Homo sapiens: one gene and its partners. The protein of the gene in region 6 purifies or fractionates together with the protein of the main gene of each other region. This does not show direct contact. Each region holds a gene or a part of one and is shown on either strand. Other genes may lie near its edges.

Region 1 (3,500 bases), on a different chromosome or scaffold from region 6:
CTACCTTCAATGATCTTTGCTGCAAACTCTCGGATAGACTTGAGGGAAGCCAAGTCCAGGTGCCGGGCGTTGACATGGTGATTGAGGGTCTCCCCGCGGATGTCCTTTGCTGCCGCCTCACACTTCTCCATGTCTCGGCAGGCCAGGATGATGTTGCCTCCTGAAAACCCAGGATGGAAAAAGATTTAAATTAATAATCCACTCCTGGGTACTGACCCCAGAGACATGAAAACATACGTCTACACAAAAACACATCCACCAATGTTCACTGCGGCATTCTTCACAAAAGCCAAAAGGTAGAAACAACCAAATGCCCATCTGTGGATGAAGGGACAACAAAATGTGGTCCATCCATAGAGATGGAATATTAGACGGCCGTGAAAAGGAGTGAAGCACTGGCTCATGCTACAGCAAGGATGACCGTCAGAAACACTGTGCTCGGGGAAAGAAACCAGACACGAAAGACCACACAGCGTACAATCCCATTTACATGAATTCTATGTATATGATTTCACACCTATGAAACGCCCAGAATAGGCAAATCCATAGAGAAAGAAAATAGATTCTTGGTTTTCTAGGGCAGGGGGTGGGGAGAGGGAATTACAGCTTGATAGTTACAGTGAGCAGGTTTCTTTCTAGGGTAACAGATGTTCTAAGATTGATTTTAAAGATGGTTGCATCATTCTGTGACTATACTAAACATCACTGAATTGGTCGGGCACGGTGGCTCACACCTGTAATTCCAGCACTTTGGGAGGCCAAGGCAAGAGGATTCCCCATCCTCTCCTTTTTTTTTTTTTTTTAGATGGAGTCTCACTCTGTCACCCAGGCTGGAGTGCGGTGGCGCAATCTCGGCTCACTGCAACCTCCACCTCCTGGGTTCAAGCAATTCTCCTGCCTCAGCCTCCCGAGTAGCTGGGATTACAGGCACCTACCACAACTAGCTAATTTTTTATTTTTTTATTTTTAGTAGAGACAGCGGTTTCACCATGTTAGCCAAGCTAGTCTTGAACTTCTGACCTCAGGTGATCCACCCCGCGGCCTCCCAAAGTACTGGGATTACAAATAAGCCACAATGCCCAGCCTCCAATTTTTTTTGTTGTGGTAAAATACAAATCACTTAAAATTTATCATCTTAACCCCCTTTTCTTTTTGTTTATTATTATTTTTTTTTTTTTGAGTCAGTCTCACTCTGCTGCCGCGGCTGGAGTGCTGGCGCCATCACAGCTCATTCAGCCTTGAACTCCTAGGCTCAAGTGACCTGGGACTATAGGTACCACCTGTGCCAGCATGCCTGGCTAACTCTGGTAGAGATGGGGGTGTTGCTATGGTGTCCAGGCTGGTCTGGAACCCCTGGCCTCAAGTGATCCTCCTGCCTCAGCCTCCAAAAGTGCTGGAATTATAGATGTGAGCCACCGAGACCCGCCCTCTTAGCCATTTTTAAGTGTCCAGTTCATTGGTATTAAAAACATTTATGGCTGGGCCGGGCATGGTGGCTCACACCTGTAATCCCAGCACTTTGGGAGACCAAGGCAGGTGGATCACCTGAGGTCAGGAGTTCAAGACCAGCCTGGCCAACACATTACAAACTTAGCTGGGTGTGGTGTTGCATGCCTGTAATCCCAGCTACTCGGGTGGCTGAGGCAGGAGAATTGCTTGAACCCGGGAGGCGAAGGTTGCAGTGAGCCAAGATCATGCCACTGCACTCCAGCCTGGGCGACAAGAGCAAAACTCCATCTCAAAAAAAAAAAAACAATAATAATAATTCCTAATGTTGTGCAACCATTACAACCATCCATCTCTCAAATTGTTTCATCTTGCCAAACTAAACTTCCGTTTCCATTAAACAGTAACTCCCCATTCTCCCCTCCCCTCCTGACCCCTGGCAAGCACCATTCCAACTTCTCTATGAATTTAACTGTAGGTAGCTCCTGTAAGTGGAATCATACCGTATTTGCTCTTCTGTCGACTGGCTTATTTCACTTCATGGAATGTCCTCAAGGTTCATCTGTTTCAATGCCCTTTTTTTTGTTTTGCTTTGTTTTGTTTTGTTTTTGAGTCTCACTCTGTCACCCAGGCTGGAGTGCCGTGGCGCCATCTCTGCTCACTGCAACCCCTGCCTCTCAGGTTCAAGCGATTCTCCTGCTTCAGCCTCCCAAGCAGCTGGGACTACAGGTGCCCACCACAACTCCTGGCTAATTTTTGTATTTTTAGTAGAGAGGGGGTTTCACCATGTTGGTTAGGCTGGTCTCGAACTCCTGACCTCGTGATCCGCCAGCTTTGGCCTCCCAAAGTACTGATTACAGGCGTGCACCACCGCGCCCGGCCAGAATGCCCTTCCTTTTTAAGGCTGAATCATATGCCCCTGTCTATAGAAGCCACATTCTGTTTCCCTGTTCATCTGTGGATGGGTGCCTGGGTTCCTTCCACCTCCGGACTGTGAATAATGCTGCAGTGAGCATGGATGTACAGATATCTCTCTGAGAGCCAAAGCAGGGGAGATTTTACCTCTCCTGGCCAGTTCCAAGGCGGTCTGCTTCCCGATGCCTGTGTTGGCACCCGTCACGATGACCGTCTTCCCAGGGATGGTGGCCTTGCTGGGGCAAGCCCCACCGGTGACATAGTCCCTGAGGGTGAGAAGCGGCACGGTCAGTCCTGTGGGCCCACTCTCACCCCACGTGCCCCTGACTGAATGATCTCAGGCAACCTTGTCTGAGCTCACTCACATACCCCAACTGAAACACAGACATCATCACATCACACCAAGGGACCTCTGTCATGTTCTCCATAAGTGGCTCCACCCAGTGTCTGGCGTGTGGAACGCCTTCAGCAAGTGACAGTCATTATTTTATAAATGCTCACTGCATGAGATTCCCGGCCAGGTGAGGGGGCTTGCACCTGTAATCCCAGCACTTTGGGAGGCCAAAGTTTTGGGGGTGGGGGGGGGCGGGGGCGGATCACTTGAGGTCAGGAGTTCGAGTCCAGCCTGGCAAACATGGCGAGACCCCGTCTCTACTTAAAATACAAAAATTAGCCAGATGTGTAGGGAAAAGAGAGATTAGACTGTTACTGTGTCTATATAGAAAGGAAAGACATAAGAGACTCCATTTTGAAAAAGACCTGTACTTTGAACAATTGCTTTGCTGAGATGTTGTTAATTTGTAGCTTTGACCCAGCCACTTTGACCCAATCTGGAGCTCACAAAAACCTGTGTTGTATGAAATCAAGGTTTAAGGGATCTAGGGCTGTGCAGGAAGTGCCTTGTTAACACAATGTTTCCAAGCAGTATACTTGGTAAAAGTCATCGCCAGTCTCTAGTCTCAATAAACCAGGGGCACGATGCACTGCAGAAAGCTGCAGGGACCTCTGCCCTTGAACACAGAGTATTGTCCAAGGTTTCTCCCCGTGGGATAGTCTGAAATATGGCCTCGTGGGATGAGAAAGACCTGACCGTCCCCCAGCCCAACACCCGTAAAGGGTCTGTGCTGAGGTGGATTGGT
Region 2 (3,500 bases), on a different chromosome or scaffold from region 6:
GATAAAATAAACAGAAGGAAAAGATATAATATATGAAATAATCAAATATTCCTCATAATGAATATATACGTTATATACACATTATTATAATTCAGTGGTGTATACAATATTTTCAGTATTTTTTTCTCTTTAAATTATTAAAAAATAGAGACAACGTCTCTCTATGTTGCCCAGGCTGGTCCCGAACTCCTGGGCTCAAGTGATCCTCCTGCCTCAGCCTCCCAAAGTGTTGGGATTACAGGTGTGAGTCACTGCGCCCATCCTAGTAATTGTTAAGATACGATTTAACTTCCATTTGATGTCTGATAGCACTTCTGAAAGACAGGACAAATTTTCATGGCCCCCTAGGGCAGGTTTCTCAGGTGAAGGCCACAGCCTTTCAATATCAGAATCCCCTGACAAGCTTGCTAAAATCAGAATCTAACGTTGGAGCCCAGAAGTCCACAGATCTCGTTCACCCATATTCTATATTTAGAATAAATATCCTTCAATCTATCATTGTGTCTTTGGCTAGAAATGCTCTTTAGTTTGACGCGATTCTACCCACTTGCTCCCTCCAAGCAGTTCTATCCTTCAGCTACAATCACTGTTTTATTAATATTTACTGTACAATGAGCTCTCAGTTATATCCAGGACGCCTTTTTTTTTTTTTTTTTTTTGTGAGGCCTCACACTGAACATGACAAACATCATGATAAGGAAACCTGCCCACTGCCTCCTCCTCTTGTTCAGATTCCTCCACAGGTCAGATGAGGGGAGAGGAAGTTAATCTCATTAATTGTTAGGTGTGAGAAATAACAGTTTTCTCAAAGCATTCTCATGACGGACTGACGTTAATTAAAATATAGAGTGAATCTTTAAAAATTTTCACCCTGGTTGACTTGAGATTGCCAGTAACTTCTCTCTTCAAAGGTTGATTCCTTCTTGGGATCGAAAATTAGGAAGTCTGTCTTGGTGCCACCAAACCTCAGGTACGCAGGAGACAAGCCTCTGGCCAAGGTACGAAGCTTTGGAGAACTGTTAGGAAGACAAGCAAGAAAGTATAACTATTTTTTCCAAGACAATCTAGTCAAACATTCTTACTTCCTTCTTTCCTGGTGGACCTATTTCTTAACATTTCCCTGTGCAGGACTTAGAGGAGGAAATCACATTGTTTTGTTTTTGAGACAGAATCTTGCTCTGTTTTCCAGGCTGGAGTGCAGTGGCGCGATCTCACTTCACTGCAACTTCTGCTTGCCGGGTTGAAGCAGTTCTGCTTCTGCCTCCTGGGTAGCTGAGATTACAGGCAGTATTGTTTAATTTTTATTTGTTTTCTTATTGGGCATGATAGAAAGGGAATCATTGTTTAAAAGAGGAAGCATCTCAATCTGAATCTAATTGAAGGACTGATCTTCTAGGAACCTGAGGGCAATTTGTAGCTCTAATTCTGGCAAGAGCTTGTTTGTGTGTGTGTGTGTGTGTGTGTGTGTGTGTGTGTGTGTGTGTGTGTGTTTGTGTGTGGAGGGATGGGGTCTTGCTATGTTGCCCAGGCTGGTCTCAAACTTCTGGCTTCAAGTGATGCTTCTGCCACAGCCTCCCAAAATGCTGAGATTACAGGCATGAGCCACTGTACCCAGCCAGGAGCTTATGTTTTAACTTGACAAGTAGGATGGTGTTCAACACTTAAAAAAAACTCATAGCCTTTTATGATGGATGGGGAGAAAGAAATGATAGAATAGAAACTAAGGGAAAGACAGCTCTGTGTCTGTCTGAAAAATAGATCGTCCGAAACTATGGGACAGTAAAAAGATCAGCGGTTACCAGGGGCTGGGGGTGGAAATGCAGAGAGGGAGGGATGAATAGGTGGAGAACAGGGGATTTGCAGGGCACTGAAAATACTCTGTATGTTACTATAATGGTGGATACATGTCATTATACATTTGCTCAAACCCATAGAATGTACACCGACAGTGAACCCTGCCGTGAACTATGGACTTTGGGTGATAATGATGTGTCAGTGTAGGTTCATCAACTAGAACAAACACCTCTCTGGTGGGGATGTTGATAATGAGGGAGGCTATGCATGTGTGTGGGCAGGGGGTTTATGGGAAATCTCTGTCCTTGCATTCAATTTTGCTGTGAACCTAAAACTGCTCTAAAAAATAAAGTCTATTTAAAACACACACACACACACACACACACACAATTTGGTGAATGACTTTTTAAAAAGTCTTCACACACCTGTCTTTCCAGAGAAGTTTATAAATGACTTAGGATCTCTTCTCCTCTTCTTAACTCCTGCCTCCCTTCACCATTCCCCACCAAGGAAAATCATTCTTTTGTATTTAAGTCAAATGACTTAGAATTATATAGTATTCTAATTCCCATCACTGACACCTCTAATTTGAACAATTCTAAATGCATATTCTGTCAAGCCAAAAATGCTCCAAATGGGTGCCTATCATGTGCTTAGAATGGTACCAAATGCTAGAAAATGGAATTAGAATGATCTATAATCCCTTCCCTCAAAAAGATGAGGATGTTCATAAATATTTACATGAGCAAAACTAAGAAAACAGAAGACCTGGGTAAGAGAAACACCTGTCATACATTTCTGAAGTATCAAACATGCAATGCTGGCCACACTGCTTCCTGGAATGCTCTGAAAACATATTAAACCAATGCTAGCAACTCTTGGAATGGCCTAATTAGTTTGTCTACATGTAGGTTTATTTCAAGTCAGGAAATTATTCCTGGAGCACTGATTGCCAATACTTCTTCTTCTTCTTTTTTTTTTTTTTTTTTTTTTTTTGAGACAGGATTTCATTCTCATCATCCAGGCTGGAGTACGATGGCGTGATCTCAGGCCATTGCAGCCTCCACCTCCTGGGCTCTAGCAATTCGCCCACTTCACCCTCCCAAAGTGTTGGGATTATAGGCGTGAACCACCACACCTGGCCAAATTGCCAGTACCTCTTAATATCCTAGGAATTAAAGATCTGATCTAAAATTTAAAGTTTTAAGATGTGCTCATGCTTAATTAAATATGTATAATGCTATGTAAAATTTTCAAAGTATTTCTTTATGCTTAGGAAATAAACTAAAAGATAGAAATTGAACAAAATGTAAGTCTCTTGTGTTAAAACTTCAGTGATTCCTCCTCACCATATTTTTGTTTGTAACTTGGGAGTCCCTAAAAATACGGTGGGCTCTGACACTAGGAACCTCAGAATAAAGTGAGATTTTAAAATGTTATCAACCCGAATTCACCCTGACTGAAATACCTGACAGCCCCAAAGAGCTCTAGGAAGGATGGCATCTGTCATGGCATCCTCAAAACCACGGCTAAATAAATGGAAATGCTAATCTGAACTAAGTAAGGAAGAAGCAGCTATTTTCAGTTTGGTACAAACCCAAATAAAAATAAATTGTAGGGAGGGGAAAACAGAGGATGCACTATTGTTTAATGGGTACAGAGTTTCAGTTTGGGAAGACGAAGAAGTTCTGAGATAGATAGTGGTG
Region 3 (3,500 bases), on a different chromosome or scaffold from region 6:
AAACTTAACGTTAACTTTTCTTTCTCCATTAATTTTAGTTATGGTTTTGGTTTTTCATTCCACCAGACAAAAATGCAGGCCCAAGACATTGGTAAAATTCCACTTAAAATTCCTAATATTCTTTCATGCTAGTTCACAAATCCTAAGTATGGTTAATCACACAGTATTATTTAGTCCAACAAGAAACTTTCTGCAAAGACATTAATAAAACAGAAAGAATCATAGGATGTTAGAGCCAGTGGGACTTTGGACAGCGTATTATATTTTAATATTAGACCTTGACTTGTGTGAGGGTGGTAGGTAACCATTGCAGGCAGCCTGCTGGGCGTTGTGTGGGCTTCTGAGCTGGAGGCATTGCTGTTTATGTTGTTCAGAACCCTCTTGCTGTCATGTCCCCTGTGAGAAATCTCTCTGAATAGGGTTGCAAGAAGTATTTCTCTTTCCAGTGGAAATTGGTATGTGTCTTAAATCACGACCAGTCATATGAGTTATTTAATTATTTCTTTTTCATTTTTTAACCTTGGTTGCCTGTAAACTCAGCCCAATTTTTTACATTAAATTGCAGCCATAATGGTAAAAAAAAAAAAAAAAAGCTCTGATGTATCACTTATGATTGTACTTTGCAAATACTAATTCCTTTAAAACATAAATCCTTTATGAGGAAAATTAAGCTTATTTATTCATTTAACAAATGAAGAAACAAGGGATGCAGAGTTTCAGTAATTACTCCAGGGACATAAACTAGTAAGTGGTAGAGTTGGAAAATCTAGCTTCATAGCTGGAGCTCTTAATCTTAATATTTTACTGCTTTACAGTTATAATAAATCTTGTAGCTGGTAAATTTTTTTCTTTCATACCTTTTATACCTTCGTTTCCCAAGAATCTTCTCCCACCATTGCTATGTGGAAAGACTCAACATTTATTGATGGCAGATGCTGTTACAAGCCAAGGGAAGCATCATTGTGGGAATGGGATTGATCAGAAGTGACTTTACAGTGAAAGTCTATTAGGGCTGGGCATGGTGGCTCATTCCTGTAATCCCAGTGCTTTGGGAGGCTGAGGCAGGAGGATCACTTGAGCCCAGAGGGTTGAGGCTGCAGTGAGCTATGATCATGCCACTGCACTCTAGCCTGGGCGACAGAACAAGATCCTGTCTTAAAAAAAAAAAAAAAGTTTATCAGTGGTCAACAAACTGAAGACCAAGCTCACTTTTTTTGAAAATAGAGTTTTATTGAAACAAATCCATGCCTGTTTATTTACTTATTATGTATGGCTGCTTTCTCCCTACAGCAGCAGAGTGGAGTAGTTGCAACAGAGACAGTATGGCCCATAAAACTGAAACATTTGCTCTTTGGTCCTTTACAGAAAAAGTTTAACAACCTCTGATCTACGTGATAAAAAGTGACTGTCTACTAGGAGTGAGAACTCCTTGAAGGCAGAGATCTTGCTTGTTTTATTTATCTCTAGGAACATCTAGGAACTGGGTATGCGGCACATGTTCAATAGAATAGTTTTTGATAGTTGAACTCTGAGCAATTTTGATGAGCTGATTAACTGGGTATGGTTAATTATATAGACTAGAGCTTGGAGTAAGTATAGCTGAGAAATAAAGGAAAGATGAGTGAAAAATACATCAAGGGAAAGGGATATGAAGTGTCTGAGGTCTTAGGACATTGACTGCAGTTGGGCAGGGTTGGCACGGCATGGTTCCAAGTGACATGGTTTGTAGTGCAGTCTATGAAACGAGTGCCCTCTGGAGCTGTGCAGTTTGCAACCTTGAGCAATCTTGTGAGCCCGTACATAGGTGGCAATGTTGTTAGGGAAAGGAGAGGGACTAGTGGAAATATAAATGTCACTGATGTTGTGAAAGGCAAGGACGGGGAGCTAGTAAAGGATTCTAAGATAGGAACATGATCAGATCTTTGCCACTGGGTAGAGGTGTGAAGGGTAGATGATTAGAGAGAAGAGAGACTAAAGACAGGGAGATTTGGATTTAGGAGGCTAATATAGGAGTCACAGTGAGAGTCCACGATGGTCTGAGCAAATTCAGTGAAAGGGGTGAAGAAAGAAGAGACTCAGGTGGTTCCAGAGTTAATGCAGACAGTACTTGACTAGTTGGTTGTGAAAGACAAAGGCGAGGAGGACCTAGAATGCTCCCACCTCCATATATATTCAAACTTACCATACACGAAGTCATTGTAGCACCATAAAGAGAAAATAAAGGGAAACGAGATCAGGCCTAGGCCCTCTACTACCATGAAACAAAGTATTTTCATTTGTGAGTGTTTGAGTTATTTTATTGCTACGTAACAAATTGCCCCAGACTTCGTGGCTTAAAACAACAATTTTATTCTTTCTCATGATTCTGTGGCTCAGGAATTTAGACAGGACACAGTGGGGAATCTTGTCTCTGCGCCCCACAATGTCAGTTGGGCTGGAACAGGCAGTATGACTTCTTCACATATGCATCTGGTTCTGTGACCAGGCACTGGCGCCTGCAGCCCTGTTTACTTGGGTGTGGTTTATCTAAATGGACCCACTGAGGAGGGGAATAAAGGAAGCAAAGAGCCACTTGTCTGGCTCTGCTGGGGGCCTTCCAAGTTTTAAAGCTGTCTCTCATGCAGTCTCCTGCCTGAACCTGCCCCCGGGATGGAGCCATTGAATGTGTTTTTTTTCAAATGGGGAGACTGAGCCCCAGATGCAGCGACTAGGCCTTGCTCAGAGTGAGTGTCTGTTGGGGCTGGATCTTGAACAACAGCCTCCTGACCCTGGTCACATGTGTTAATCCCACATATTGACCGTAGGCTAACTCGAAGGGCTGGGGGCTGGCTGGCTGGGGTCACATGGACTCATATGTCCTCGACATTGCCTGGCTTCCTTGATTCTCCTTTATATAGTCTCAGGTTGTCCCCTTTCTATACGTGGCCTCTCTACATGGTCTTTAGAGCAGCATAGCCAGACTTTTTCCATGGCAGTTCAGGATCTCTCAAGAGCACAAAAGTGGGAACTACCAGACTTTCTTCAAACTTAGCCTGGAATCGCATGACCTGGAATTCCATCCAAGTCATAGGCCTCATCCAGATTGAAGGGCATGGACTATTAAGACCTACCTTTGGATGTGAGGAGCATCATGTGTCTGCTGGGAGGGGAGAAAGTGGAGCCATCTTTGGAGACCAGCTACCACTGTGAGGCAATAGATCTTTGAGAAGGCTAATCAGATACTTTAAGTTTTAATTCTAACTTGATCAAGTTCAGTTGGCTTAGTTCTCTACTGAGGATGCCTCATTGTATTTTGCTGCTGTAACTTCAGAATGAAAAAGCTCCATAAATATTGTGTTTGCATGTTCTGTTAGATTCATGTTAGGGCATTGATCTTAGTTTGTCCACAGTTCTGCATTTAAAGAACTCACAACTGTCAGGAATAAAATGAAAGTTCCTAATGAAGCAGTATGTTTTGTTTTATTCAAATATGAGAATTTCAAAACATCTAACCATTTTCC
Region 4 (3,500 bases), on a different chromosome or scaffold from region 6:
TTTAGAAGCAGAATTTTTTTCTCCTAATGAGTATTTCTTAGACCATTACTCCTGCTATAAAGGAAATACATCTGGCTCAAGTCAGAATGAGCAGCATCACTCTTGTTCTACTCGAACAAATGTCACCAAAGCAGCTTTTTATTAAAGTAGCATAATCCTCCTTAGCTCCTCGAGGGAATTACAGATTCATAGAATGTTACAGCTGGAAAGGGCTTTACAGCATCTAGAAAAATGTCCTCATTTCATAAATGAGAAAATCTAGCCTAGAGAAGTAAAAAGACTCACCCTTGATTACAAAGCCAGTAATAAGCAGACTCAGGAAGCGTACAAGGTCTTAATGAGTCAGTCTAGTACAAACTACACCATAATCTAGTAAGAAAGGAAGAAGAGGGATCGCAGATTGAAGGGATAGGAAATTGTGATCTTTAGGAAGTTCAAAGTGAAAATGATCAGAGGCTGACATAGTAAAGACATAAAAAGGTGTGGCAGTACTAAACAGCTCAAGAAGTGCTGCTGCCCATGGGAGAACACTTAGGATTGAAAATAAGTATGAATAAATGCTCAACTTTCTGGCAAAAAGTTGAGAAATTATGTGAGTTTGGAACCCTTGAACCAGGACTTAAAAATAGATATTTTTATTTAAGTGGCTGAAATTATCTAGTGAGTAATATTGGATTTAGAAGAGAGAACTGGACAGGAAGTGTAAGGAAATCTGAAAGCACAAAGAAAGAATTACATTGCATTAGAGTGTGAAGTTATTTACCTAAAGCTCTTTGGTATCAGAAATTCAAGAAAATTTTTGGCTTAATCACTTGTATAAAATAAGGACCGGCCGGGCTCGGTGGCTCACGCCTGTAATCCCAGCACTCTAGGAGGCCGAGGCGGGTGGATCACCTGAGGTCAGGAGTTCGAGGCCAGCCTGACCAACATGGAGAAACCCCGTCTCTACTAAAAATACAAATAAAATTAGCCGGGCATGGTGGTGCATGCCTGTAATCCCAGGTACTTGGGAGGCTGAGGCAGAAGAAGGGCTTGAACTCGGGAGGCAGAGGTTGCAGTGAGCCGAGATTGTGCCACTGCACTCCAGTCTGGGTGACAGAGCGAGACTCCGTCTCAAAAAAAAAAAAATAAGGACCACTACAAGGCTTTACAGTATAAGAATTTTGGGGCCAGGCAAGTGGCTCATGCCTGTAATCCCAGCACTTTGGGAGGCCAAGGCAAGCAGATCACCTGAGGTCAGGAGTTCAAGACCAGCCTGGCCAACATGGTGAAACCCCATCTCTACTAAAAATATCAAAAAAAAAAAAAAAAAAAAAGCTGGAAATGGTGGTGTGCCTGTAATCCCAGCTACTTGGGAGGCTGAGGCAAGAGAATTGCTTGAACCTGGGAGGCGGAGGTTGCAGTAAGCCAAGATCATGCCACTGCGCTCCAGCCTGGGTGACCGAGAGGGACTCCATCTCAAATAATAATAAAGAAAAAAGAATGTTTGCATGTTCTTCTACTCCCAAGAGCACTCTTCCCTTCTTAAGATATACTGCACATTGGTAAAAGATTAAAAACAAAACAAACTTGGAAAAGAAGCAATCTTTGGTTTCCTGGTCAATGAAGAACTTTGCTGAAAGAAGATATTCCCATTCAGAGAAAGCACAAAGTGAACACAACTAGAAACAACTGAAACTCAGTCTGGTATTTCAATACTGTGTCATAACAGCCAGACAACTTTCCAGCTGTTCTTCAAGACAGAAAACTCAGATTCTGACAATGAAGAAGATGGATGTGGCCCAGTGCAGAAGTCGGATGGACAAATGGTTCCAGAAGCTTTCTACTTGCAAATAACCTGAGTGATGAAGATTACAGGCTTATGAGTGATAACAATTTGCTAGGCACTATAGGTGAAGTACAGAAGAGTTGCTGAGAAGGTTACAACAAATTAAAGAGGATTCCCCACAAGAATCAGGTGAAAACAGAGGTGGATGACGTCTAGCACTAGTAATGGGTCTGTAATAAAGTGGCTTACCTCTTTTGGGCAAACTGAAAATATGACAGGAAGTAAGCAAAGAGAAAACCAAGCTTGGACAGCAGTGAGCCAGAGTAATCCATATAGTGGTAATTTCAGATTCAATGTAGGGATCAATTTTATCCTTAATAATGGAAGGCTGAATACAGAAAATGAATATGCATCATCTGCAAGATTTCCCAGGGGAGAAAATAGGGAAAACAGAGGAAAGTGGAAAATCCACAATCTGAGTCAACATTTGCAAGGCCACCTAGGTCAGGTACAAAGTGCGACAGAAGTATTAATGAAAGTTCCACTTACCAGAGGTCAGAGAAGACTGAGAAGCAGGAGCCCAGACCAATGGAGAACCAGAGCGAGAAATAAAAGTAGGTTCCCTCCAAATTCATGGTGAGAAATTTCACAAATATTTCATGATAATATACATCTCAGACTTTTGAATGACCCCTGGTAAATGAGACAGAGATTTTCTAGAACTCAGCAACATGAGACATTGAGAGAGCAAATAACTGACCCATAGTTGCAAAGTGGCATGTTTTTGTAGCTTTTGGAACATGGAATGCCTTTCCAGGAAAACGTTCTCCAGACACAATCAGAAATGGTGAATCTGGGGCACTGAGACTGAGAAATCCAGTCATAGTCCTGATTGTGATAGTAGGAAGAGTTCATCATGGGGAATATTTGCCAAGATATAGCACACCTAATAGAACCCAGTTAACATCTCCAACACCAAACAACAGTCACTTTAGAAAGTGAACAAAGAGAACTCAGAAATAATATTTTCACATTCTGAGCAAGCAGGTGTGAGCACCTATTTCACTACCAAAAGAATTCCTGTTCACAGAATTTCAAATACTCATTTAAATAATACACCTGTTGCAACTCAAAGAGCATTAAAGCAGACAATGACAAGATTTGCAGACTCAAATATGGACAGTGATAGTGATTTGTATCCTAGCGGCTCACCCCAGTCAGAACATGGCAAGAGCAAAGTCACAGAATGAAAGAGATGGTTCTGATATCAGCAACTGTTCTGGCTCCAATTCATGTCACAGTACTGCTTATGAGTCTGACTCAAGTTCTGCAATCTTTAAATCAGCCTCCAGTTTTTGAAGCGTTCATTATACATAAAGTAACAACCCGATCTAACTCATTGGTTCCTGAAGGAATGACTGAACCTTCCTCAATCAATTTCTGTTTCAGTAAAAAAAAAGAGGGAAGGAGGGAGAGGGGGAGGAAATGAAAGGAATTTCCAAACAAGTTTTCCTCTAGGTGCATACAGCTGTGACAGGACTGCCAGGCTCTGAAAGAACAAGCTTTTTATGTTAGAAAGGGAGTATCACCTAGCACTTTTAAACAGATGGCAAATGACCAGAAGTATGAACCTCTAGGCATGAAGAAGGCGGTTAATTACACCAAGACTGTGTTTATGTGTATACAATCACTAAGTAGCTGCCTCTATAGATACACTTCTTAACAAGTAAGT
Region 5 (3,500 bases), on a different chromosome or scaffold from region 6:
CTACCCCCACCTCACCCTTCCGGCCCCGCCTGGCTTACGTGGCCAACAGCAGCTCTACCTCCAGTTCCGTGGTCTCAATGCTGATCCCGGAGGTGCTAAGGATGAGGTAGAAGGTGACCTAGGCCAAGGGTGGAAAGAGATTAGAGTCAGGGGTGGTCTACGGGCTTATGGAGAGGCTACTCACGTAGGGATAAGGGCAGATGTGCCAACCTGGGCACCTCTCTTCATGGGGTTCCCCAGCTCACACTCAACATGGGAGGCATTCTCATTGGACAGGCAGAGTGGCTTCTCCTGGAATGGGAGAGAAGGCAAGGTCAGTCTGGGTTACTGGAGCCCCTCAAGACCCCACCCCATCCTGCCCCCAGGTCCTCACCGCAGGGTCCAGGGCCCGGACCCCTGAGTAGTGCAGTGAGTCAGGAAGCATGACCAGGAGCTGGGCTTCATGGGCATCATCCCCATCAGCCTGGGGCTGGGCTGGGTCCGATGGCAGGTTGGTGACCATCAGCTCCAGGCCAATGACTGGCTGCCCACTCAGTGCAAACAGGGCTGTTGTTCCATCCACATCCCTGGAGAGTCAGACCCCACTCCTGCTAAGTTCTGAACACCTCCCCCTACCATTCCCCCGCCCAGTCTGCTCCCCCAGTACCTGCCTTCACTCCCTGAGCCTCTCTTCCCACCCCAGGTCCCCATCACACCCGTCCAAGCCTCAGGCCTCTGTACACACGACTGGGAGTCAGGGGACCTCCGTTCTCATCTCAGCTCCACCATTACTTACCTTGGCCAAGTAACTTAACCTCTCTAGGCTTCAGTTCTCCATCTATAAAATGAGACTAATATAATTCCTACCTCACAGAGGTTTGAAGACTAACCAATGAGATGTATGTAGACTGCATATTATTAGTGTACTGTGAAGGATTGCTATTCCTTGCCATGGGAGCCCCCGTGGCCCCATCACTGACCCTCATCTCAGTCTCCAAGTCCATCGGCAGGTCCTCTTCCACCTTCTGCCTTTTCTGCAGGCTCAGCCCTTCCCTCTGACTGGTCCTCCTGAGAGGGCTTTCTCTCAATCCTTGAACTCTTGCCCTCCCACCCCCACCCTGCTCTCTGCCCCCCTCACATGGGCAGAGGTTGGAATTCCGTGTCGCTGACCCGGGTACAGAAGCGGGCGCGGACCAGCTGCAGATTGCTCTGGCAGATCTTGTCTTCACCACAGCCTTGCTTCAGGAAGTGGATCTGGGGAGAGACATGAGATAAGGGGCATTCCTAGGGGGCAAGGCAGGGGGCAAACCTGTCACCATGGCATATGGTGGGTTAGAGTATCACAGGATTAAACAACCTGTCCTCAACTCTCAGATCTGCTGCTTATTAGCCATGTGATCCTGAACTGGGTCCTCTCCTCTGGGTCCTCTCATCATGGTAGTGATGGGAGCACTACCATGCCATGGTAGAGACTAGCAGCAAGTCAAGAGCTGGGCCACACTGCCCCAGCTCACATGCATGTAACTGAGTTCCGGATTTAGAACGGGAAAAGATGTCAAGGGCACCACTTCTGGGCCAGCCATAAAAACCATGCAAGCAAGGGGCCTCATGTTCTCCCTTCCAGCTGAATGGGATGAATGTGACTTCAAGAGCTTGAAGGCCGCATTTGAAGATTACAGAATCCCATCAACCTGAGCCCCCTGAATGACTACATGGAGTAGAGGAGCTCTGTCCCCTTGACTAGGAACATGGTCATTTAGGCACCTAGAGATATGAGGAATTACTGGAGTAGCATACGTGAAAGGGCTCTGTGAGCTGTGAATTGGTGTCACTGGGGAGGGACCATGATCTTTGCCCTCCCAGCTCCTCCCCCTGGGCTAAACCAGAACCCATGCTCACCTCTGCCCGCTGGGTGCTGGGCTGGTGGGCATTGAGGATGGGGGCCACTGGAGGCAGCCCCTGGCCAGGAGCCTGTCGCCGGAGCCGAGGGGTCTGGAGACTGTAGGACAAGGTCACTACAATGGCCCGAAGCTTGTCTTTGACATTTTCCTAGGAAGAGGAAGGTCTATTCCTCACTGGAACAATCCCCAGGCCTCAGCCCTGCTCAGTGCCCCAGCCAGACCTAGGACCAATTCTAAAACTTGGAAAGAATATTAGGGAGATGAATGAGAGAGGTGGAGAACTGAGCAAGGAGGAGGGAGAAAGACTGGGGTAGGGGACAGGGGAAACCTTTAGGGCTTTGAGGACCAGATGTGATGATAAAAGCTGCCACCTCCTCCATTCAGCTGGAAGAGGGGACATGAAGCCCCTTGCACCTCCTCCTCCTCCAGGGAGTGCAGAAATGACAGGAGAGGGCAGCAGATGAGGAGGAAGTGAGCTCAGAAGACAGGTTTCCCACGTGTCTAGGTCTTAGAAGGAGGCACGAGTGTGCTCGGGAAAAAGCAGCTAAGAGGAATCAGGGAAAAGAGATGGAGCCATGAAAATGACCCTCAGAAGCCAAGGGGTCAGTGTCCACCTGGAGCTGGAACATGGCGTCTCCACAGACTCGGTCATGCTGGTGCTTCAGCCACACGGTGCCCGAGGCCTGGTGCTTGGGTTCTTCCAGGTTACGGCTCAGGAACGTCACACGGGGAACCTGGCCCCGGAGCCTCCGGTCTGTGTCCGCATCTAACACATAGTCCAGGGCTGTGGCATGTTGGGAAAGGAGGAGCTGCTGAGCTGCAGAGCTGCTCCAGCTCACCCCATTCCAAGGGTGCTCTTCTACCACCTCGAAGTGACCCCCCTCCCTGGGAAACCCAAAAGGGCGAGCCACAGAGGGGGGACCGCACTCACCCACAGTAGGGCTATAGCTGCTGGGGACTGCAATGTAGCTGAAACAGACCCTTAGGTCCACACTGCGGGGGCAAAGGTGGCTCCTGAGCCAAACGAGGCTGATGGGCCAAGGCCCCTACCCCCACCCCATCTGTCACATCCTGTCACAGCCCCAGCCCCAAACTGGGGAGATAAAGGATCAAAGGGAGGGCAGGGGAAGCTGCCAGGGTCCAGGTGCCACCCGATCCCACCTCACCAGACCGAGTGGCCGCCAGCACAGTTGGGCTGCTCCAGGTCGATGCTTCGTGGAGCAATAGAGACCTCATGGGAGACATGGAGGATGGGTCTGGCCCTGGGATTGGGGAGTCAAGAGCACAAGAAACATGAGAACATGAGGCTGGGAAACACTCTTCAGCATTAGATTTGGCACTGAGGTCGGGGTCAGAGTCACAGGGAGGGGCTGACGGCCTCAGGGAGGGAAAAGGTTGAGAGGGGCTCACCTGAAGAGCACTGCGGTGTCAGCCAGGGAGCCCACCAGCAGGTCAGGGTATTGGTTCCCATCCATATCCAAGCTGCCTGACAGGGAGTAGCCGAAGCTCTTGATGCCCACAGCCTCGCCCTCCAGCACCTAGAGAACCAGCTGTCAGCCTCCCTCAATCCCACCTCCCGCAGGCCTCTGCCTCCCCTGATGCCTCTGCTGATTCCACCCA
Region 6 (4,151 bases):
TTGAGGCTGCAGTGAGCTATGATTGCACTTGGGCAACAGGGCAAGGCCCTGACTCTAGTATCTTATCTATATATAGATATAAATACGTAAGTGACTGTGCATGTACATATCAAGCCTACTCTGTGCCAGGCTCTGTGATGGGCACTGAGCATGCAGAAATGAGACACACACCCTGCTCACTGGCCCTTATGGCCAACAAAAGGAGGCAGATGAGCGGGCACCACAAGGAGCAGCACAAAAGAGTGGGGACCTCCATGGTGAAAAGTCTGGAGTGGCTGCACTGTAGTTTATGAGTCACAGCAATAAGGGACAAGGTCCTCAAGGTAGGCCAGAGACAGACTTGAAATTCCTTTCATGTCCAAGGTGAGAAACCTAGCCTCAGCCCTGAGGCAATAGGGAGCCATGAGGCTTTAAGCAGGGTGACATAATCTGAGAGGCCATCTAGAACAACTCTCCTGGTAGTGTGCCAAGGATAGGAGGAGAGAGCCCAGAAGTAGGGAGATTCAGATGAATCTGGGAGGTGTGGGAGCCAAAGTGAAGGGTTTGGAAGAAGAAAGGAGGGGTGGAGTGAGGAGAAACAAAAGAGGTCCCATACCTATTGCATGTGAGCCAGATGGGCCAGGGAACTGTGGGAGGGGAAAAGAGTGGGCCTGAGGTGGCCAGAGTGAGGGGGGCTGGGGAGGGGGACTGGAGAGGGGCCCTGGCCTGAGCTGGGGCAGACAGAGCAGTTGGACGCCAGCAGCCTTGTGCTCATGGCTCAGAAATGTCCCAGGCCTGCCAAGAAACTGCTGCCTCTGTCCCCCCACCAGCCCCAGCCAGGCTCCCACATCAGGAGCTCTGAAACTGTCCCCTCAGCCTTCTGCTCCCCCAGAGCAGGCCTCCCGTCCCCAGAAGCCAGGCATATGACACCCCCACTCTCCCTCAGCCCTCCCCCTCAATGGCTGATGAAACACAGGCCAGGGAAGGAGGGGAAAGAATAAACAGACATCTGCAGGGGGGCCCATCAGGAAGTAGGGGGCAGGCTGCGGCGGGCTGGGGCTGCCTGGGGGCGCCAGGGGGCCCACAGGTCTAGCAGGGTGGGTGGCAGATGGCGGATAGCGGATGGAGTGGGATCCAGGGAACAGTTGGAGCCAGCAGGGAGTTAACGTCTGCAGTACTTTGCCCGACAGGACTAATGAGACACAGGTGGTCCCCTGGCTCCAGCCCCACCTCCCAGCCCCCTGATAGTGTAAACTGATGCTGGTTGTCTGGGGTGGGGAGAGGGGGGTTCTGCAGCTACGGGAAGGGGGGCGGGGCTGGGGCGGCTGGCGGGGGCCCAGCGCATAACTCTGGGCGGTTGCAGTCTGGGGCCGCAGACACCCAGCCACTCTGAGCAGAACTGACAGCATGAAGGTACGGGGCCCAGGGTCGGGGGACTCATAGCATGGGGGAACTGAGCCCACTCCAGAGGCCCCTGGCCACAGAGGGCACTATGAAGGCACAAGGAGTTCTCTTGAAACTCGTAAGCTATGAGGGTACACAGCGTCCCAGAGAGTGGGGTTACTTGGCGGGCGGGGTGGGGGGGCAGGGAAGAGGGGCCAAATAGCAGGAGAGGGATTCAGGCAAGGGCAGTATGTGCATGCATGGTGGGGGCAAATGCAAAGAGAACAGGGGATCTCTGGAGCTGGGAAGGGGCTGTGCTGACCCTGTCTGCCCATCGCCAGGCACTCCTGGCCCTGCCGCTGCTGCTGCTTCTCTCCACGCCCCCGTGTGCCCCCCAGGTCTCCGGGATCCGAGGAGATGGTAAGCAGCCCCACACTCACAGACGCGGCCTGGCCCACAGGTTGTGCAAGAAGAGGCTGGACTGTCAGAACAGACTGTCAGGGCCGAGCCCCAGCTCTGCAGGACTCAGGTTCCTCCTTTACAAAATGGGGCAGATGGATGACATAAGCATTGCTCATCTCCCTTGAAGAAATCTTCCATGACTCCTTGTGTCAAAGTCCCCCAGCCCCAGGGACTGAGGCAAACCTTGGGGTGCTGAGGTGTCAGTGATGCCATAGTCCCACTCTCCTCACTGTCCCCATGTCCCTACCCCCAGCTCTGGAGAGGTTTTGCCTTCAGCAACCCCTGGACTGTGACGACATCTATGCCCAGGGCTACCAGTCAGACGGCGTGTACCTCATCTACCCCTCGGGCCCCAGTGTGCCTGTGCCCGTCTTCTGTGACATGACCACCGAGGGCGGGAAGTGGACGGTGAGTGGGAGGAGGGAACAGAGGCCAGAGCTGGTTCTAATCCCAGCCCTGTGACCCTGGGCTTCACATATGCGAACCTCAGTTTCTTCATCTTTAAAATGGGGATAATGATACCCACAGCACAGCTTCTGAGCAGCTGCCAACGCTTAATTCTAAGTGCCTGAGGTAGGTGTTTGTTTGTTTGTTTTGAGGCGGAGCCTCACTCTGTCATCCAGGCTTGAGTGCAGTGGCTCCATCTCAGCTCACTGCTGGAAACTCCACCTCCCAGGTTCAAAAGATTCTCCTGCCTCAGGCTCCCGAGTAGCTGGGATTACAGGCATGTGCCACCATGCCCAGCTAATTTTTTTATTTTTAGTAGAGATGAGGTTTCACCATGTTGGCCAAGCTGGCCTTGAACTCCTGACCTCAGGTGATCCGCCCGCCTCAGCCTCCCAAAGTGCTGAGATAACAGGCGTGAGCCACCGCGCCCAGCTGAGGTAGGTTAATGCACATAAGCCTCACAATAATCCTGGGAAGTAGTGAGGAACTAAAGCCCAGAGAGGTGAAGTAACTTGCCCAGATCCCACAGCTAGGCACTCGAACTCTAGAACGCCTCCCTCTTAGCCTCTTTCCTGCCTCTATACGAAACTGGGTATGAAGAGCCCAGGTGGGTGCTGGCAACTGCTCCACAGGGGGCCTGGTGCCAATGTGGACGTTGTTTTAGCAACCCCACTCCCACCACCCTCCCCACCCCCAACCCAGTCCTTTAACAAACTGGCCACAGCATCACAGGGTCCATGCTTGAGGTGGGCAGGGCAGGACCAGAACCTTGCCCATTGGACCCTTGATGATCCAGTCTCATCTTCTCTGCTCCAGGTTTTCCAGAAGAGATTCAATGGCTCAGTAAGTTTCTTCCGCGGCTGGAATGACTACAAGCTGGGCTTCGGCCGTGCTGATGGAGAGTACTGGCTGGGTAAGGCAGGGACCAGGTGGGCTGAGGGGCTGCCCCAGGGCCAGGTCCTTGTTGACCAGCTGCCCCTCCTCCCCAGGGCTGCAGAACATGCACCTCCTGACACTGAAGCAGAAGTATGAGCTGCGAGTGGACTTGGAGGACTTTGAGAACAACACGGCCTATGCCAAGTACGCTGACTTCTCCATCTCCCCGAACGCGGTCAGCGCAGAGGAGGATGGCTACACCCTCTTTGTGGCAGGCTTTGAGGATGGCGGGGCAGGTATAACCCGCTGTTAGCTTTGGGAGGGGCTGTGAGGGGAAAGAAGGCAGGGCTGGCCCTGCCCAGTCAGCCCCAACCTCCTTCAGGCCCCTCCTTCAACCCTTCTGGATCTGGAAGGGCCACAGCTGGCTCCAAACAAGCTCAAACCAGCTTGGGCCTCAGCCCTGGGGAGCAGCCATCCTGGCCCTGCTCCAGGCAACTCTGTGGTGGAGCAGCTGTTTCTCTTCATTGCAGAAGCACATCAACCCAACATCTGGCTCAGGGAGGGTGCCCCCATCCCGCCAGGCTGCCACGTGATATCTCTCACAGTCGTCATTGTCACCCTCTCCCGGCCAGCTCGGGGCTCAGTTCCCTGCCTCAGCAGCCCCAACCCTTCTCTCCTCTGCCAGGTGACTCCCTGTCCTACCACAGTGGCCAGAAGTTCTCTACCTTCGACCGGGACCAGGACCTCTTTGTGCAGAACTGCGCAGCTCTCTCCTCAGGAGCCTTCTGGTTCCGCAGCTGCCACTTTGCCAACCTCAATGGCTTCTACCTAGGTGGCTCCCACCTCTCTTATGCCAATGGCATCAACTGGGCCCAGTGGAAGGGCTTCTACTACTCCCTCAAACGCACTGAGATGAAAATCCGCCGGGCCTGAAGGGCTGGCCCCCTCAGGCACCTTTCCTCCCCTGGACACCCATGGTCTCCATGAGTGCTCCCTCTGCTGCC
Region 7 (3,500 bases), on a different chromosome or scaffold from region 6:
AGGAAAGAGGATGTTAGCAATTGTTTTACCTGTCCTCATGACTTCCAGTACGAACATCCTTCATGGCAGCAAATCCGCAAGGCACTCTAGCATATTTATTTAAATTTTCAATAAGTGTCTTCCCTACTTCAAGGTAGTAAGGATCTCCTGTAGCCTATTAAAAAGGAGAATATATGTATAATATATATAGCTTATATATTACCACATATCCATTCATTTACCAAATATTTATTGAGTACCTACTAGGTGCCAGGCACTGTATCAGGCACTGAAGGACATTATATAGAACTGAGTTCTGAAAAAAAGCTATGAATCTGCTTTACAGAATTTCTTAAATACACAATTATAAAATTTAACTATATAACCTTAGTTTTTAAATTTCTAATGCTCAGAAAGGCTGCCTGAAGAAAGGCAAGAGACATGCTTTAGAAAGCAGCTCTAGAACATAAAATTTCTCTTTAAAGAAATGTTTACATAATATTTTTTAAAGAAAAAAACCTTGCATGTCAATTCTTGCATCATTCAATAATTCTATGGACTAGATGAATAAGAATCATGATATATCCAATCATTATAATATTAAAAGGGGACTCTGAAAACCCAATTACTATTATGAAAGAATGAGAGATCCAACAGAGAATGGAGGCTAAACTTTAAGTAAAATGGGGTATATTTTCTTACTTTATATAAGAAGTAGGTACTTTCTGCAAATTCTGGCCTTAAAGGATGTTGAGCCCAGTGTACTCTGAAATCTGTGGTAAATGCCTGAACAAAACAACATACAAAAGGCATAAAAAATGTGATTAAATACACAAGTAGTTCCAGAATATATAGAATATATATAAATAGGTAAAAGCAATTAAAATAGCAATCAGGACATTTTCATCAATAAAACATCAATTTTCATTGCTTAAAATAACAATTCATTTTGCAAAGGCTGCTATTTTTACCAATTAAATTGATTATTTTTTCAGTGATCATTCTGGCTATTAGAAAACTCAGAAAAACTCCATAATGAAACTCAGCAATGCCACTACATGGGTCCTGGTGGTAAACATAATTGTGTTTTCTTTTTATCCTTCCCTCTACTTTTTCCTCTGGATTATTACTCTCCTAGTTCTCATATTTATTTTTAAATTTTTTAAATCGACAAATAAAAGTGACATATATTTATGGTATATGACATGATGTTTTGATATATTTATACACTATGAAATGGCTAAATCAAGCTAATTAACATATGCATTATCTCACATAGTTCTCTTTTTTTGTGGTGAGAATACTTAAAATCTCTCTTAGCAATGTGTAAGCATACATATTTCATATTTTAGCTTATATTTTCTAAAAGCCTCAAATCCTTTGTGGAATAAGACAGAGCATTATTTAGAAATAAATAAAATTAGTCTATTTGAAATTTATTCAATAACATAATCAATTGGTTTTTAAAAGAAAATAAAAATAAAAGCAAACAAAAACTTTTATGGGAGCTAAATAAAAATTTCATTTGTGATAGATGTATTAATTGAAACCTCAGTTTATTCTGTATGGATATGAATTTTCTACAATGCACAGTCCTACTCACCCGAAGGCTAATAAAACTATACTTTCCAAAACAAACACTTTAGGAACCCTTCTAAGTTGGTAGAATGCTTAGATATCTCACAGAGGGTAGTCAATAAGCGGGGATAGAACAAGGCCATACACACATTTGGAAATTTTTAACGGTACATTTCTGGGAAGCCAAAAAGTATGCTATTAAAATCTTGTCATATTAAGCTAGCAAGAATATTTATTACTAATATGATGTATAAAAATCAGGAAGAATAATTCTCAATCAGCATGAGGAAGAGATGGCATTCTATACATTTCCAGAGGGCATGTGTGAACAACAAAAGTATATCTAATATATACTGTTTTCATAAGACAAGCTTTAGAAAATAAAAAGTGACAAAATCTCCCTAGCTGGTAGGTACATACAAGAGTTAGAATGAGAGAATATTACAATGGCATAAGTTAGGAAGAGTTGAGAAGAACTAAGCTGGGAATTTTTTTACATAAAATTTTAAAAATGTCAGCATTACCCTAAATCAGACTTCTCTTAACACACAAAGAAAAGCAAAAACATATATAATACTGTACAAACCAAAAATAAACTATTTAATAGGAAAAAAATAAAAAGAACCAACAAGCCTTGAAGATGACATTTTCTACCTTTATATTAGCAACTTATAGTGTATATGTGTACGTGTGTGTGTGTGTGTGTTTGTGTGTGTGTAAGATTATTCCAAAAATTATTTGCTTACCTCTGGTAGAAAATTGTGTTTTTTAATCACCTGATATAACATTTCATGAGTTTCAATAGCAGGTCTAATATCCCCCTTTAACACCTAGAAATCAACAACAATAAAATTACCTAATAAAATATGAGCTGATTTTATCTCTAATCATTACATAAACAGAAAAATGTATACAAATACAATTCTGAACTGCAACTATGTTTTGTAGTTCAGTTTTAAAGATCAAAAATGCGCCTAATTAACATCATCATCTTACATTCATATTAAGAAGACAGAATTCTTTATACCTGCAAGCCTGGGAAGAAGGCAAGCAAAGCATCCATCCAAGTCCGAGCATTCAGCATTGGTTTGTGGATATGCACATCAAGTAGAAGAGGTGGCTGGCTAATATACCTCATTATGGCATCATAGTGCTAAAAGATCACAACATGTGTTCATGAAAGTTAGATGAAAAAAGAGGTACTACTCTAAACACATTAAATAGCACTGTGAATAAATTAAACTAGAATTTATATATAAATTCACTAAATAACTACCAATTTATATAAATATTTAAGTTATTTTAGATGGAGATCTTTCTAAAATATATATGTACTCCTTTATGTCCTCTAACTCACATGCAGACTATTAAAGACTATCTGTAATATAGGACCTTCTGAGAAAAATGGAACTGAACATCTCTATGCCCTGTGGCGTTAGCCCGTGGTTGGTATGACTTTGCGGCCCACTGATGCTCATAGGTCCCCTTGTAATATAGCTATCAGCTTCTGTATTACAGAATTTGCTTTTTCCTGTATCTTGGAAGTTTGATCCCTTCTCGGCTAACAATATTTTGGTGCTCACTACTATCTAAACTAATGCAGCTAATCACTGCTGCCACTCTTATGGTTTGCTATCTCAGCTTATTATGGTCTTAGAAAACTCTTTTTCCCTTCTTTTGTCTTCTTCTCCTAGATATTTCTCAGCTTTGACAAAAGGTTGAGTTGTGATAACAAGCCAACAAAAATAGTTATTTGTCCCCATTTACCTCAAGAAATTCTTGTTATAATCTAATAAACAATCTATGTGATAATTTTAGAAAGTATTCAATTAATGACTTATTAACTTTTACTAATTTTTTTTTTGCAAATTTACCTATTATTTAATCACTATTATTGAATATTGGCCATAGGTTAAAGGCACTGCTCTAATCACTTTGAATGC

What was found.
Region 1: the proteins of MFAP4 (region 6) and RDH13 purify together in Homo sapiens (affinity purification with mass spectrometry; one large-scale study listed by BioGRID and IntAct). This does not show direct contact.
Region 2: the proteins of MFAP4 (region 6) and HPSE purify together in Homo sapiens (affinity purification with mass spectrometry; one large-scale study listed by BioGRID and IntAct). This does not show direct contact.
Region 3: the proteins of MFAP4 (region 6) and FBN1 purify together in Homo sapiens (co-immunoprecipitation; one study listed by IntAct). This does not show direct contact.
Region 4: the proteins of MFAP4 (region 6) and LRIG2 purify together in Homo sapiens (affinity purification with mass spectrometry; one large-scale study listed by BioGRID and IntAct). This does not show direct contact.
Region 5: the proteins of MFAP4 (region 6) and ITGA7 purify together in Homo sapiens (co-immunoprecipitation; one large-scale study listed by IntAct). This does not show direct contact.
Region 7: the proteins of MFAP4 (region 6) and EDEM3 purify together in Homo sapiens (affinity purification with mass spectrometry; one large-scale study listed by BioGRID and IntAct). This does not show direct contact.

Annotation. Positions count from the first base shown.
Region 1 is NC_000019.10:55,056,649-55,060,148, forward strand, and holds part of RDH13 (retinol dehydrogenase 13 isoform 1 precursor), read right to left. Parts: intron 2,628-3,500; coding exon 2,509-2,627; intron 161-2,508; coding exon 5-160; intron 1-4. UniProt on the Homo sapiens protein: Retinol dehydrogenase with a clear preference for NADP. Oxidizes all-trans-retinol, but seems to reduce all-trans-retinal with much higher efficiency. Has no activity toward steroids.
Region 2 is NC_000004.12:83,321,349-83,324,848, forward strand, and holds part of HPSE (heparanase isoform 1 preproprotein), read right to left. Parts: intron 1,017-3,500; coding exon 871-1,016; intron 1-870. UniProt on the Homo sapiens protein: Endoglycosidase that cleaves heparan sulfate proteoglycans (HSPGs) into heparan sulfate side chains and core proteoglycans. Participates in extracellular matrix (ECM) degradation and remodeling.
Region 3 is NC_000015.10:48,635,710-48,639,209, reverse strand, and holds part of FBN1 (fibrillin-1 isoform a preproprotein), read left to right. Parts: intron 1-3,500.
Region 4 is NC_000001.11:113,125,198-113,128,697, reverse strand, and holds part of LRIG2 (leucine-rich repeats and immunoglobulin-like domains protein 2 isoform 1 precursor), read right to left. Parts: 3' UTR 1-3,500.
Region 5 is NC_000012.12:55,694,405-55,697,904, forward strand, and holds part of ITGA7 (integrin alpha-7 isoform 2 precursor), read right to left. Parts: intron 3,419-3,500; coding exon 3,291-3,418; intron 3,143-3,290; coding exon 3,047-3,142; intron 2,874-3,046; coding exon 2,812-2,873; intron 2,665-2,811; coding exon 2,495-2,664; intron 2,029-2,494; coding exon 1,879-2,028; intron 1,234-1,878; coding exon 1,118-1,233; intron 567-1,117; coding exon 374-566; intron 292-373; coding exon 211-291; intron 119-210; coding exon 39-118; intron 1-38. UniProt on the Homo sapiens protein: Integrin alpha-7/beta-1 is the primary laminin receptor on skeletal myoblasts and adult myofibers.
Region 6 is NC_000017.11:19,384,391-19,388,541, reverse strand, and holds the start of MFAP4 (microfibril-associated glycoprotein 4 isoform 2 precursor), read left to right. Parts: upstream 1-1,351; 5' UTR 1,352-1,386; coding exon 1,387-1,392; exon of another isoform or gene 1,393-1,423; coding exon of another isoform or gene 1,424-1,501; intron 1,502-1,703; coding exon 1,704-1,782; intron 1,783-2,077; coding exon 2,078-2,232; intron 2,233-3,087; coding exon 3,088-3,184; intron 3,185-3,260; coding exon 3,261-3,443; intron 3,444-3,832; coding exon 3,833-4,080; 3' UTR 4,081-4,151. UniProt on the Homo sapiens protein: Could be involved in calcium-dependent cell adhesion or intercellular interactions. May contribute to the elastic fiber assembly and/or maintenance.
Region 7 is NC_000001.11:184,716,859-184,720,358, forward strand, and holds part of EDEM3 (ER degradation-enhancing alpha-mannosidase-like protein 3 isoform 2 precursor), read right to left. Parts: intron 2,711-3,500; coding exon 2,585-2,710; intron 2,388-2,584; coding exon 2,304-2,387; intron 766-2,303; coding exon 682-765; intron 155-681; coding exon 30-154; intron 1-29. UniProt on the Homo sapiens protein: Involved in endoplasmic reticulum-associated degradation (ERAD). Accelerates the glycoprotein ERAD by proteasomes, by catalyzing mannose trimming from Man8GlcNAc2 to Man7GlcNAc2 in the N-glycans.